Linked DNA regions of Homo sapiens. The protein of the gene in region 1 interacts with the protein of each later gene in a biochemical or structural test. Each region holds a gene or a part of one and is shown in the gene's direction. Other genes may lie near its edges. The genes, in order: NTF3 and LRP1.

The links.
Region 2: the proteins of NTF3 (region 1) and LRP1 form a complex in vitro, tested with the Homo sapiens proteins (one study listed by BioGRID).

What each region holds. Positions count from the first base shown.
Region 1 is NC_000012.12:5,435,063-5,438,869, forward strand, and holds part of NTF3 (neurotrophin-3 isoform 1 preproprotein), read left to right. Parts: intron 1-3,807. UniProt on the Homo sapiens protein: Seems to promote the survival of visceral and proprioceptive sensory neurons.
Region 2 is NC_000012.12:57,127,102-57,131,552, forward strand, and holds the start of LRP1 (prolow-density lipoprotein receptor-related protein 1 preproprotein), read left to right. Parts: upstream 1-1,381; 5' UTR 1,382-1,863; coding exon 1,864-1,930; intron 1,931-4,451. UniProt on the Homo sapiens protein: Endocytic receptor involved in endocytosis and in phagocytosis of apoptotic cells. Required for early embryonic development. Involved in cellular lipid homeostasis.

The sequences.
Region 1 (3,807 bases):
AGGGATGTACATTTAAGGGGAAAAGTCCTTGTGCATTGGCACTGGGTGGGAACAGGAAGAGATGTGTGCATAAGACTGAAGTAAGTAGAGGAATGCACTATCTGTGCCTGGTGTCAGGGATGCATGTTGTATAATGTTTTGTAATGGGTTTCTTATGTAATAGGAGAATTCACTATCACCAGTTCATATTGATAATCAATTAAAGCTAATGGAGTGCCTACTGGATGCTCAGCCCATTGCTGGGTACTGGGGCATGGCACACTGCCCTGGAAAAATTCCTTCTCCAGGCTCAGTAAAACTGATGCAATTTTGCCAGAAATAGACAGAGCTCGACGCTTGTTGAGGTTTCTTCAAGGTCTATAATTCAGTTTCTAGAGATGTTTATGGATCTTGGGGGCCAAAGGGAAGCTGACTTGAAATATATCTCTGGTTTTGTAAAAAGTGGGGCATAAAGAGAGGGATGATGTAGACTTTTGTGTATTGGGAAGGGAGCTGGACGGTGTTGTTGTTTCTTGTGTGGGGTGTGGGCTGGGAATTGGAGGGTGCTGCACTTCAGGTCAGAATGCAGGTCCAGATCCCTCTAAGGATTGAGTTTCTAAGAGTACACAGAGCCTCCTTCATAGCTGGAATGAGACCTGTTATGTGGAGCTGGAGAATGGTGAAGTCATGATCAAGGAAGAGATGGACTGGGAGTGTTTGTTCATCTTTGATGTTTTCTGGGCTACGAGTGTAAAGCTAACCTGAGTGTGTGTTGGGGGGGTGGGTATGCATGCAGGTGCGTGCACATGCACTTTGGCCTGGAGTAACGTAACTGGGAGAAAACTAGCGAGGTGGATAGGAGGGGTGGATATTCTGGCTCTTGTGAAGGGGGTGCCAGTATGTGTTTTTGCAGGAATTCTGTGTGTCTGGGGAAGGATAAAAATTGTCTTGGATACTCAGATGTGCATCTTTAGCGAAAAAAGGTGTACACAAAAGAAGGGCCGTAGACTTTGGGGAATGAGACAAAGGTGTCGTTGATCGGGTCCATACCCTGAGATGGCTGGTGAGGCAACTGGGTAGGAACAGAGTGAAGGCTGTGCTTTTGTGATGCACACATCTGCCTGTCTGGAGCAGACGATGGGGATCCCCATTTGATTAGGTTCTGACCACCGTTGGGCATATGTTTGGGAGGACTTTATTTGACTCATGACATTTTTGAATTCATGAAGTTACAGCTGTGCCATTTTAAGGGTCTACCTTATTTTTGAGAGGGAAACTCATCTGTGTAAGAGATAGTTTATATAGGGCTTGACTATTGGTCAGAAGATCCGGGGCAGATATTTCTGAGAGCAGGGTGGTGAAGTGCAAGACTGGATTGGGAATGTCTTAGTTCTAGTCCAGTTCTACCACTTGGGAAAAGTGTGACTTTGGGGACATTTTTAATCTCTATAACTCTTCTGTTTCTCTTTTTGTAAAGGGGCAATATAATGACTCAAGGAGAAGGAAAGTTCACTCCTCTTTTCCCCCATCAAAACTTGATGTGTTTAGTTGTATACAGCCATACAAAGATGAAATGTAATTAAATACAGGTGCTAGCACGTATGTAGGTCATTGTGAAAATAGGATCTGGACCCCTTTCTCTTTACAATGCAACTTAATCAGTAATCATGATGCCCACAGCATCTCTACTGCTCACTCATTGTGTAAATAAAACTTTTTATAACTGCCTCAGTTTACTCATCCAGAAGCTGGAGGCAGCCAAACCTAGATTATAGATGATGGAAATCTTTAAGATCTTTGAGCTATTCAGAGGAAAGGTAGTCTAAGAATCAATGTTATTAATGATCAGAGACAGACATTTCTTTATTTTTTAACATCAGCTATGCAGACCACAGCACCAAAAGAAATGTGACGTGGAGAACAGCAAAAATAATAATTGCCCTTGACATAGGCACCATTTGAATAAAAGAAGAGCAAAGTCTAGCCTGCCTGGTAAGAGGAAAGCCTGGGCTTTGGGTCTTTGAAATTCTTTGTGCCCAGTGCAGCAAGTTGGGTACAGCCACTTTCCCCAGAGATGAAGATGGAGTCGTAGAGGGGCATGGAAACACACTGAAACCTCCGATTCCTCCCAGAAGTCAGTACATGCTGTCAACTCCTGGCTCAGAGTCAGGCTCCCATCCTTGAGTTCAGTGGCCATAAATAGTCAGGAGCTAAGCTATTTCCAAGAGGCACTAAACTAATTCTGTTGCTTTTCTTGGCGAGATTGGGCCAATTAAGTTGATTGGAAGAGGTCACTGCTGATGGGTCTCACATTCCCCAGGCGGGACAGGCCAGCAGAGTTTAATTACATAACATTTCCCATGTCTTCACTTCCACTCCCAGATGTATCAGATGTTCAGGCCTCTCCTCTTTCCCTACATTCAGGATGCCTGACGGAGCAGGCGGCTTCTGCTACAAGCTTCTCCAGACCTTTTCCTGAGCAGTTACAGCACTCCCACCCCAACTGGAGGGAATGCAAGTCTGTGCATTGCCTGGAAGTGAGAGAGGGGATGCAGGCTGACACAGAAGATCTTTAGAGCCCACCACCCTGCCTCAAGCCTCACCCGCGGCTGTTTTACTCTTTAACGAGGCAGGCAGTTTCTGGCGTTGGGGATGTTGAACTAATGACCGTTGCTAGGGTTTTAGATTTAGTTTTATTTAAAAATGAGTTTGTTGGAAAAGGACCAAATCTTCTACTGGAGACAAGCCTAAGCCCCGTGTGGTGCTGCTGATAAGGTCTGTGGATGTACTTTGTGCATGGACAGGCATGTGTGGAGTAAGAGGAGAGCACAGGATGTGCGTGCGTGCGTGCTGGGGGACACGTGAGCGTAGGAGATGCCCTGGGTAGATGGGGCATTTGTAGAGCTTATGTTATGGGTGGCAGGTATCTGGATGCTTGGCTCAGATTGGATTGTCATTGGATTGCTTCTTACAGGTGGGACAGCCTGAGAAAAAAGTTGGGGACACCTTCCTTCAGATCATTTTTATATGGGCATGTTGAACCTTGAAGTATGAGGCCAGTGTAGATATTACCTCATTCTTGCCTGGATGGATTTCTAACAAGATTGAGGCTGGACAAAAAAAAAAAAAGTCTTTCAGAGGACTCATTTTAGAACCTGTGAGAACACATGTAGATGGCCCCAGAGCGTTAAAGTATTTTTTGTTGTTGTTAATAGTTTTCCATAACTCAGTCTTTTGTTTTACCTAAAAATACTGAGAGGCTAGAGGTTGCACACACCCCCACATGGTCAGAATGCATTTGCTGTTCATGTCCCCATCTGTGCCATGGTCCTTCTCAAATAGGATTAATTGGGAACTACGGAGAGCTTGCCGCAGCTTTGGTTGTCCTCACAGGACAAACCTATGACTGACCGTGATGTCATTGAAACAGAACAGATTTTGACGTGAAATTTCGTGTGGTCTGTTGTGATTGCTCACTTTTTAGTAACATCTCCAGAGAAGACATTTGTTGAGCCCCATTTTTTTTTGTGGGTTTGTTCAGTCAGAGATTTGTTGGAAGATTTAAGGTTCTCCAACATTCAAGGCCAGAGATTTTGGAGGAAACAGTAGCTAACAAGAGCCCAGGCCAGGGTGACCTTCAGTAGCCTGAGGCAGCAGGTAGCTGCCTGACTTAGAAGTGAAGGACCAGGTTCAGTGACTGGGCTCTGTCACTAATTAGCTGCTACTGTGTGACCCTGGACATTCTCTGTAGGACATGACTTTGCCATCTGTAAATGAAGGGCTTGAATTAGAAGATCTCCCAGTCCCATTCCAGCCCTGTCACTGTAG
Region 2 (4,451 bases), about 52 Mb from region 1:
AAGGCAGGTGGCCACCGCGCTGAGCAAAGCCGGCTGGAAGAAGCTAAAGGTTGAGCTCACTGTCATTAGGAGGCAAGTCCTTCGTGCTGCTCCTGTTTCTGCCAAGGACAGACTGGAGTGGGGACTTTTCCGTAACTAGAACGTAAAAGGGGGAACAGTCCCTCCTCTCCAGCGTCAATTTTTGGCAGCCGACGTCGTCTGCCCCGCTCCTTGAACTCTGACATGCAGACACCTAGAAAGTCAGACACTAAGGTAACAGCCATAAAACGCCGCCCAGAAGGGGGCAGTGACCAAAAGCACGTTCACTGGCCCCTGGGAACCGCCTGGCGCCTGCCTTCTGCAAAGTATCATTCCCGTGTGGGCTGAGCCTGGGGACAAAGGTCCGGCGCTCAGCAGACACCTCCTTGGAACCCGAGGCCTGGAAACGAAGGTCCAGAGTCCCTCATCTTATTCCAAATCCTGGCGCTCGGAATCTAAAACCCTAACTTGATGGCAAGCCAGTCAGAAGGTATTAAAAAAAAAAAAAAAAAAAAAAACAGAAAAATAAATGAGCCCCGACTTCTTGGGCGAAAGGGGGTGGCCTTTCCTCAACCCCACCCGCTGGTGACTCACCTCCCTCCAAACCAGGGCCTGCCCCTCCCGCGCCTAGGGCTGGGCGAGCAGGGCGGGCGGGTACTAAGGTGGGCTCCATCCCCGAGCCCCACGCGGGCGGACAAGCTCCGGCGTGTCCCCTCGGGTGTCCCTGTTTACTCCGAGCCCGGGAGCGAGGTGGGGGCGGGTCCTCGCGGTCCCTCCCCAACCCCGCCCCCTCCTTCGCAGGCCCCAATCCCAGTCCGGTCTTCCAAAGTCTCCAAATCAAAGCTCAGCCTTTCCCTGCACCTTCCCCGCGGACTGGCGGTCCCTGTCCCCACCCCGGGCAGAGGAGGCACCTTCAGGGTTCCCCTAGAAAATCGAGCCTCGGCCCAGACCACTGAGTCCCGGACGCCCCCGGAGGGAGCCTGAAATCCTAGAGTATGACACTGAGTTTCAAAGGGGAGCCGCTCAGCTCTCCGCCCACTGCCCAATCCCACCCTCGACCCCTTCTGCTCTCTGGAGCACCAGGGAGGAGGGCCCAGCCAGGGGAGAGGGCGCCCCAGGCCCCAAACTAGCCAGCGAGTCCCCGGGACCCTCACTCTTGGACCGCTTTCCAGAACTCCGAACCCTGTCGCGGGTCCGCGTCGCCCTCCCCCGGGCAGCGCGTCAAATCGGCGCATGCGCACTCACTGGATTGCCGCGTAGCTCTTTCTCCCCCCACCCACCAACCTTTTTTCTTTCCCCGCCCCTTCCCTCCCTCCCTCCTCAACCCGTCCCCTCCCTCTCCCCCATCAGCCCCCCCCTCGGCACTTCAGTCCGGGGAACAGCGGTGCGAGCTCCAGGCCCATGCACTGAGGAGGCGGAAACAAGGGGAGCCCCCAGAGCTCCATCAAGCCCCCTCCAAAGGCTCCCCTACCCGGTCCACGCCCCCCACCCCCCCTCCCCGCCTCCTCCCAATTGTGCATTTTTGCAGCCGGAGGCGGCTCCGAGATGGGGCTGTGAGCTTCGCCCGGGGAGGGGGAAAGAGCAGCGAGGAGTGAAGCGGGGGGGTGGGGTGAAGGGTTTGGATTTCGGGGCAGGGGGCGCACCCCCGTCAGCAGGCCCTCCCCAAGGGGCTCGGAACTCTACCTCTTCACCCACGCCCCTGGTGCGCTTTGCCGAAGGAAAGAATAAGAACAGAGAAGGAGGAGGGGGAAAGGAGGAAAAGGGGGACCCCCCAACTGGGGGGGGTGAAGGAGAGAAGTAGCAGGACCAGAGGGGAAGGGGCTGCTGCTTGCATCAGCCCACACCATGCTGACCCCGCCGTTGCTCCTGCTGCTGCCCCTGCTCTCAGCTCTGGTCGCGGCGGCTATCGACGGTGAGTGAGATTCCGCGTCCCCCTTGGACCCCTGGGGGCACCCTCTCCCCAGCCCCCACTCCTGCATACGGATGGGGAAGGGAGACGCGGGAGGGGGTGCCTTTTGTTATCCCAGTCCAGCTGACACAGCAGCGGCCCGACTGGGGGCGGGGATGGGGTCCGATTTGGGGGATGGGGGCCCTGGGCAAATGATGCTTCCGGGGCCCCCCAGCACAAACAAAGACCAGAGGCCTGGGTAGAGAGAAGAGGGCTCCCCATTTTTCTGATCCTGGGGAGGAGAGGCCTTCTTTTCCTATCTCTGTTCGGGGAGGGCCTCCGCCTCCCCTACATCCTCACAACCCCCCACCCCCCATCTGAATTGTGAAGGAATCCGGATTTGCAATGTTCGGCTGCAAAAGGGGGTGGGGGTGGGGGGGGTGGCTTTTGCACTGGCCTCTGTAGCTCGAAAGGGGAGCCAGGCCAGGGGTACCCTGCCGGGCAGAGGGCAGGCAGGCCCGGGAAGGCTGTGGGTGGGGAGAGGGAGGGCCCCCTGCTTGGGCGTGGAATCGACCCCAGAGCCCCGGCTGGAGGCCTGGGTGCTGAAGTAGGCTCTTCCCCCTCTCAGGGCCTCTGTCAGTAGCCTGGGGTAGGGCTGTGTTGGGGGGCAGAGAGGGGGAGCTCGCCATACTATGTGACTTTGAATTTTCCTTCTTAATTCCTGGGAGCTTTGAGATGAAAAAACGTCAGATGTCATCACTGGGGAAGGGGACTGGAGAATGGCCTGGAATGCTGGGGTAGGAGGGTGGGGGAGGCTGCCTTCTTCCTGACTTCTGGCTTCATCACAGTTTGGATTGGAAGGAGAGTTGGAGGTTGGATGGGGATTATGGCTGTGCCCCCACACTCCTTTAGTAAATCTGTTTATTCCCTGCACCCCTCCAAGCCCAAAACCCCATACACACACACTTTGTATATTGCAGAGTTAGGCTTAGGCTAGAACTGCATCCTTTTGGGGAAATGGGGTGCCTCTCTTCCCTTTTTTTGTCAGCTGTTTTTTTCTCCTACTTGTGAGTCACTGGTTCAAGTCTTGCCCAAGCTTTAAGCATTAAGCTGGGGTCATGGGGTTGGGCTGGGCTAGGTCCCTGATTTGAGAAGGGGTGGGATCTCATCCCCTCCTGTCATCTTAGCCCTCTCATCCAAAGACAAAACTGGGCTGGATACCATCATACACCCCCTCCTCTGTCTTGCCAGATTGGGATTGGGAAAGTTTTTCTCTGAAACCAGATTATCTCCCTCCCTCTCCCTAACTTGCTTCAATTGGGGGAGGAGACTTACAGGGTCAGGAAGCAGCTGTGTCCCCAAAAAACATATTTAGTGTCCCTCAGTTGTGCCATCTTGGGGACTCTCTACCCCCCACCCCCACCCCACCAATTAGCTGCCCCGGAGGAGGAGAGGGGCTTTTCCTGAATATCCTCCAGATGCCGCACAGCCGGCTTCTGCCTATAACTCCTGTCATTATCATGTGTTTTTCTCTTGTTCTCAGCCCTGTGAGGTGAGAAGGGAAATCGAGGCAGGGAGATTGGGGTTGCAGCCGCTTCTGGGAGGAATAGAAAAAAAATTTGAGAGAGAGAGAGACCCATCAGGAGCCCCTTGAAGGAGGGTGGCTAGAGTTAGGCAGAAGCAAGAGGGTTTCTGTGGAGAGCAGGGAAGGTCAGGAAGGGACCCCAGATAGCATCACTCCCAGGGCTCTAAAGGAGTTCTATTTGCCACACCAAGTTAGTGGAAGAGAGAGACTGGACATGTTCTCCTTAACTATCTCCCTACCCTTTCTTAAAATGTTCACCCACGCCCCCTCTGTATCTCCAGCTCAGATCAAACTATCCAAAGCCCCAGGAGAGGACCCCTCCCCAAACACACACCAATATTTCTGCCTTGGGAGTGGGAATATAAATAATCAGCTCCACCCCACTCTTGGGTACAGGGTGGTGAGAAAGGGGAATTGCATAGAAATGTAAGTTCAACTCTATCCAGAGGCAGCCTAGGGGATCCCTTATCCCTAACCCCTGCCCTCTTGCCTCAGGGTCCATCAACATTGAACTTTCTTGTTTACTTTCCAGAGAATGGAGATGACCCAGCTCACCTGACTTAGTATGTTACCTTCCTCCTGCTATCACAGCCTTGCTGCTTTCTCTCCAGGGCAGCAATCCTAGGGGCTTTCCCACCTCTTCTGCTTTCTCTTCTATGCCTGAAACTGCCTCTGGGGTCCCCTGCCCTTTGGGGAGTAACGTCACTCCCCACTAGCGACAAAATTGAGTGTACCTGCTGCTGGAGAGGTTGCAGAAAGATGGGGTGGAGAATGGGACTATTGAGGGCCCTGCTGAGATTGGGGAACATTTTCTAGTGGGGAGGGCACCCCCAGACAAATACAGCTCACAGAATAAGGCTGACTTCCTCCCTCCCTTTTTCCTGACCTTCCTCCACACACCCCCTTGAGCCGGCATATTACCAGTTACTAGAGTAGGTACAGTGGAAGTGAGTTATGAAG